Homo sapiens: one gene and its partner. The protein of the gene in region 2 interacts with the protein of the main gene of each other region in a biochemical or structural test. Each region holds a gene or a part of one and is shown on either strand. Other genes may lie near its edges.

Region 1 (3,500 bases), on a different chromosome or scaffold from region 2:
AAATGCAGTAGAGTGCTGAAAGTGATGCGTTGCGTTGCTAAGAATCAGTGAATTAAATTGGCATATAGAAACAAAATCTGGTAAGTTTCCTTTCTTATCTTTGAACAATACTTATAAAATTAAATTGTTTCTCCCCAAGACAGACATAGCAGGTAATGTGGCCAATTTCTCTCTCCTACATTCTTAATTCCCCATCCTCTCCTGTTTCCATCTGCTCATTCCCTATAATTTATATTTATATTTAGATCTCTTATTGTGTGGGTGTGAGTGGTAGAATTATGGAATCATAATTGTCTCAAGCTGCAACTTCTAGGAACAGAATTATTTAATATTTGGCTGTTTCTTAAAAGCTGATTTATTCAAATGAAATTGTTCTTTTGGAAACTTGCTAATCCTAAAAGGATCATCTTCCTGGAAATTTATTTTGCCATTTAACAAATTAGTGACAAAAAGAAAGCATTCCTAAAAGGACTCCTGTCTTCAGCCACAACAGCTCTTCCCGGGTCACCACGAGGCTGACTTCACTTAGTGGTAACAGAACAACCCCACTCGAGCAGCGTTCACAATTGTGGAAATCAAATAGTATTAATCATCGTGTTTTGCAGAAGTTTTAACATGCATGACAGATGATTATGGAGATAGCCACTGCTTACATCAATCTTTTTCTAAAACATATTAATCTGGAAAATAAAACTTTGCTGTCAAAACCAGATTTCATTGTATTTGATATTCATAAGATTCCTGCTCATAAATACATGATTGCCTTGTTTCCTAGCTGGAGGTGGGATCCACAGTCATGTCTATTTACCGTGAACAATGGGAGCTAGTACAGGCCTTAGCACTAAGGAGAGGACCCCAAAGGAAAAGGAGGATGCTGTGGACACAGGAGAGATGGAGGAGCACGTTCACTGTAGGACCTTGTGTGACAGCAAGAAATTAGAAGCAACCTAAATGGCCACAGAAAGGGGAACAGTTACATTTAAAAAGAGGAAGTGGGCTGGGCACGGTGGCTCATGCCTGAAATTCCAACACTTTGGGAGGCTGAGGTGGGTGGATCACCTGAGGTCAGGAGCTCGAGACCAGCCTGGCCTACATGGCGAAACCCTGTGTCTACAAAAATACAAAAGTTAGCTGGGTATGGTGGTGCGTGCCTATAATCCCAGCTACATGAGAGGCTGAGGCAGGAGAATCACTTGAACCCAGGGAGGCAGAGGTTGCAGAGAGCCAAGATAGCACCACTGCACTCCAGCCTGGGTGAGAGTGAGACTCCATCTCAAAAAAAGAAAAACAAAAAGAGGAAGTAGAGATACATGCACTGATACAAGAAACCTTCCAAGACATATTAAGTGGAAAAACATTTTGTAGAAATGCAGGATTATCTCACCGGTAAAAAAAAAAAAAAACCTAAACAACACAAAAACTAAATGTGAGCCATGTGCACAGGCATGGGCACACAGATAACATGTTGTACATGCACAGAACAAGGTCAGGAGAGGAGCAGTCACAGCCAACTGTGGCAGGAATTACATAGGGAAATGAGATTGGGTGGGGGTGTGTGTAGGAAGAAGAATCTTTGCCTTCAAACATGTATAAGTTGTCTGAATTTTTTACAAATAATCCTGAATAGTTTTTGTTTGTTTGTTTGTTTGAAACAGAGTCTCACTCTATTACCCAGGCTGAAGTGCAATGGCGCAATCTTGGCTCACTGCAACTTCTGCCTTCCTGGGTTCAAGCGATTCTCCTGGCTCAGTCTCCTAAGTAGCTGGGATTACAGGCATGCACCACCACGCCCGGCTGATTTTGTATTTTTAGTGGAGAGGGGTTTCACCATGTTGATCAGGCTGGTCTTGAACTCCTGACCTCAGGTGATCCACCCACCTTGGGCTCCCAAAGTGCTGGGATTACAGGTGTGAGCCACCGCGCCCGGCCAACACTGAATAGTTTTAACAAAAAGAAAAAATTGAGGCCGGGTACGGTAGCTCACACCTATAATCTCAACACTTTGGGAGGCCGAGGCGGGAGGATTGCTTGAGCTTAGGAGTTCAAGGCCAGCCTGAGAGACATAGTGAGACCCCATCTCTAAAAAAGATTTTTAAAATTAGCTGGGTGTGGTGATACACACCTGTAGTCCCAGATACTGGGGAGGCTGAGGTGGGAAGATCCATTGAACCCAGGAGACGGAGGTTGCAGTGAACCATGATCGCACCACTGCACTCCAGTCTGGGTGATAGAGTGAGAGCCTGTCTCAAAATAAACAAAAAGAAAAAAATAATAAAGGAGAAAGAGAGAAAGAAAAAGAAAGTGAAGGAAAAAGAAAGAAGAAAGAAGATACATGCAATAAGCTAAAGAAATGTCAGGAGGCTGAAGTGGGAGGATTGAGTTCTAGTCCAGCCTGGGCAACACAGCAGGGCTCTGTCTCTTAAAAAAGGCCGGGCATGGTGGCTCACGCCTGTAATCCCAGCACTCTGGGAGGCCTAGGCGGGCAGATTGCATGGTCAGGAGATCAAGACCATCCGGGCTAACACGGTGAAACTCCGTCTCTACTAAAAAAAAAAAAAAAAAAAAAAAAATTACAAAAAATTAGCTGGGCGTGGTGGTGCATGCCTGTAGTCCCAGCTACTCGGGAGGCTGAGGCAGGAGAATCACTTGAACCCAGGAGGTGGAGGTTGCAGTGATCCAAGATCACGCCACTGCACTCCAGCCTAGGTGACAGAGCAAGACTCCACCTCAAAAAATAAATAAATAAATAAAAGCTAAAGTAATTTGTAAAGGAAGACAGTCTAGAAAATTTTTGGTTCTGCCGTTTTGGTTCCGCAGTGAGACCAAGGCTAAGCGAGACCCAAAACTTGGGGGAGTGGCTCTTGCCAAGTCCAGATAGCTGTGCCCCTGACACAAAGAATACACCTTCTTAGAGACATTGCCTGATTTATGTTTGCTGGCTAAACAAGACAAGAGTCTTTGTGAGCCCTAAAGCTCAATTATTCTTTCTCTCGGAGTGAACAGTTGCAAGCTGTGGGAGAGAGGCTGTCACACGGGGCTCAAATGAAGCCCATATGCAGAAAGGAGGTTTCCAGTTGCCTGCATTTCCCTCCAGACGTCTTGCCACCGTCATCGTCATGACACACAGTTGCGGACACTTACTGAGTACTCACTATGTCTTAGGAACTACATTAAGTATTTGATATCCATTCAATCGCTTCCACATCTTCCAAAGGCATGAATCTACAGGAAGGATGAATCCTAGGAAACAATTTTCAGAAAGTAGCAGATGGAGGAAGAAGGAAAAAACTCCTCCTTTTCCTTCTCCTGGTAAATGATAATATTTTTACTCCTCGCAGATGGTGCCTCCCTGGAATATTTTCAGCAGTGGCAAAGGCAGATTCCTCTGGACTGCCTGGGGCTTTTCACTGCGGCTTTCACTCCTCCATTACCTTCCACTCTGGGACCCTCTTGGAATGGATGGTTTTGGGGTCATGTAAAGATAAAGGCAGAAGAGGTGA
Region 2 (3,500 bases):
TTTCCATCATTGCTAAATGCTCCTTACTATCGTGTGTCTAGAAATAAAATAAAAACAGACTTGGGGAAGATGACCACCAAAACAGACACAGTTAAAGCTGACAGCAAAAAAACTAACATTAAGGCTTGCAGAACAAACTCGCCAATGATTCCCTACATGGACACGGATAATTGCTTATATACTGAAAGATGTTTTAAATAAAACAATTATGAAAGAAATATGAATTAGTTTATTTATGCTTATCTACAATTAATAGTCTATAATGGGGGAAGCAAAAGTATTTATTCATATAAACAGGCACCTTTCTTGTGCAAAGCAAGGTTGAAATAGATCATTGTCACTTACTGGAAATACGGTAAACCCAAGATAGTATTCAATAAGAATGCATCCTATGCTCCAGACATCACATGGTTGGGACCACCCTAGGGCTGCAAAGCAAAGCAAAATTTAAGGAAAAAAAATACTCAATGTTTGTTAAAGAAATTAAAAAGTTAGTTAACACTAATACTTTAAAAAAAAAAACACATGTAATGTAGGCTGGGCACAGTGGCTCACACCTGTAATCCCAGCACTTTGGGAGGCCAAGATGGGAGAACTGCTTGAGCTCAGGAGTTCAAGACCAGCCTGGGCAACACAGCGAGATCCCACCTCTATTAAGATATATATATATCTGAATTGGCCGGGCACAGTGGCTCACGCTACAGGCATAATCCCAGCCCTTTGGGAGGCTGAGGCAGGTGGAACACGAGGGCAGGAGATCAAGACCATCCTGACTACACGGTGAAACTCCGTCTCTACTAAAAATACAAAAACAAAATTAGCCAGGCATGGTGGCAGGCACCTGTAGTCCCAGCTACTCAGGAGGCTGAGGTGGGACAATGGAGTGAACCCCATAGGCGGAGCTTGCGGTGAGCCGAGATCGCGCCACTGCACTCTAGCCTGGGTGACAGAGCAAGACTCCGCCCCCCCCCCAAAAAATTATATATATACACATATATATGCAATGTGATGTTTGAGCTGGAAGATCCTAAAGCAATCACTTAATCCAAGGTTAAATACAATATATATGGCCGGGCGCAGTGGCTTATGCCTGTAATCCCAGCACTTTGCAAAGCCAAGGCAGGCAGATTGCTCCAGGTCAGCAGTTTGAGACCAGCCTGCCAACATGGTAAAAACCCCATCTCTACCAAAAATAAGAAAATTAACCGGGTGTGGTGGTGGGTGCCTATAATCCCAGCTACTCAGGAGGCTGAGGCAGGAGAATTGCTTGAACCCAGGAGGCAGAAGTTGCAGTGAGCCAAGATTGCACCACTGCACTCCAGCCTGGGCGACAGAGTAAGTCTCCGTCTAAAAAATAAATAAATGATAAAAATAAATAAATTATATAGTGTTATATATAGTCTGGAATAAAATAGGCATTAAACAATTTTCTGAGATGGAGTCTCGCTCTGTCGCCCAGGCCGGAGTGCAGTGGCGCAATCTTGGCTCACTGCAACCTCCGCCTCCCGGTGTTCAAGCAATTCTGCCTCAGCCTCCTGAGTAGCTGGAACTACTGACGTGTACCACCACACCCAGCTAATTTTTTGTATTTTTAGTAGAGATGGGGTTTCACCATATTAGCCAGGATGGTCTCGATTTCCTGACCATGTGGTCTGCCCGCCTTGGCCTCCCAAAGTGCTGGGATTACAGATGTGAGCCACCGCGCCCCACCCTTGGCCTCCCAAAGTGCTGAGATTACAGATGTGAGCCACCGCGCCCCACCTGGCATTAAACAATTACATTTAAAAACCCTACCACATATTACAAATGTGAAAACAATTCCAGAAAGGTTAAGCCACTTGCTCAAATTCCCAGAGCTAATTATCTGGTACAATTGAGAGCTTAAAATCCATAATGCACTTCATGATACTTATCCCTTAAAGAGAATATGATAAAGCCCCACAAGTAAGACCTAAAACTGCTAAAAAAATTTTAAGTCTCAATAAGGAAATACAAAGGTTCTCAAAGGACAATTAATACTCACCTAAAATAACTTCAGGTGCTCTATAATGTCTTGTAGATACCAATGTACTGTGATGTTCGTCATCATATGTTGCACTACCAAAGTCTACAACTTTAATATCTGGATTTATTAAGGTGCGTTCATCACGTTTCTGAAAATCATAAATGATGGTTAAGAAGGCATAAGCTATTAAGGCATAAGATACTTTATGAATATTTTGGAAGACTTACTATTTTGGGATTATACGCCTCTGTGTAGTCAGACTGCACAAATAAGATGTTTTCAGGCTTTAAGTCTGTGTGAGTCAACTTATTACTGTGCAAAACTGAGAATAAAGAGAAAGTTGCTGTAATCAGAAAACACCAAACCAAACCAAATCACAAAACCCCACAACAGGCCGGGTGCAGTGGCTCACGCCTGTAATCACCTGAGGTCAGGAGTTCGAGACCAGCCTGACCAATATGGTGAAACCCTGTCTCTACCAAAATTACAAAAATTGGCCGGGTGTGGTGGCGTGTGCCTGTAGTCCTAGCTACTCGGGAGGCTGAGGCAGGAGAATCACTTGAACTGGGGAGGCAGAGTTTGCAGTGAGTGAAGACTGCGCCACTGCACTTCAGCCTGAACAACAAAGCGAGACTCCATTTCAAAAAACAAAAAAACCCAACAAAAAACCTCTGATTCCTTTCCCAAAGAATGGTCAACATTCCAGTCTGCTAGAAAATCACCAGTAACTAAAACTTACTACCTCTTATGAAGCTTTCTTTTATGAGATATATCACGCCTTAATTTTTACCCAGCATTCGAAGTTACTATTTTTGCGCATCAGAAAAGTCTAAATCATAGTCTGCAACAAAGTACGTTGTTATATGGTGGATATCCTACTTGCTGAATGAAATGTACACTGCTGGATCAACAGCCTGTAATCAAATCTCTTCATACCTATTCTTCCTCCCCCTTTATTTTTAATCAAATAAAAATTGTACACACTTAGGATGCACATTTTGATATGTGGAATGGATAAAACCAGCAAATTAACGAAGATATACCAAGAACTTACAATTCACAGACTTGCATATCTGATATGCCATCTTTCTGATATGATCCAGTCGAAATGGTAGAAAACCATTTTCTTTAATGAAGTCGTAAGTACTAAGTCCCAATAGTTCAAAAACAATGCAAATGTGACCATGATGCTCAAACCATTCCAACATCTGGACACAGCGGCTACAAACACATGAAAAATAGCTAAGTATAGTTGCTCCTAATTTAAATATACCTGATACCACTTCCCAAGTTCTAATCTGATACTTACAAAGTACTGTTGGGGTCTGTTGTATTCAGATGTTCCAGAACTTGTATTTCTGAGCGAGCAGCTTCACAGTATCTATCCACATTTTTAACTATTTTTACTGCTACATGTCTACCTCCCCTGTTAGAAAGATGCATGCAAATTTAAGAATGACAGACATGATGCTCAATTCCAGGTATTACTGTCTTC

Evidence for each region. The genes of interacting proteins can lie anywhere in the genome.
Region 1: of the proteins of CLK1 (region 2) and CFAP251, one has a biochemical effect on the other in vitro, tested with the Homo sapiens proteins (one large-scale study listed by BioGRID).

The regions. Positions count from the first base shown.
Region 1 is NC_000012.12:121,925,092-121,928,591, reverse strand, and holds part of CFAP251 (cilia- and flagella-associated protein 251), read right to left. Parts: intron 1-3,500.
Region 2 is NC_000002.12:200,854,659-200,858,158, forward strand, and holds part of CLK1 (dual specificity protein kinase CLK1), read right to left. Parts: intron 3,432-3,500; coding exon 3,315-3,431; intron 3,227-3,314; coding exon 3,060-3,226; intron 2,328-3,059; coding exon 2,233-2,327; intron 2,154-2,232; coding exon 2,024-2,153; intron 429-2,023; coding exon 346-428; intron 38-345; coding exon 1-37. UniProt on the Homo sapiens protein: Dual specificity kinase acting on both serine/threonine and tyrosine-containing substrates.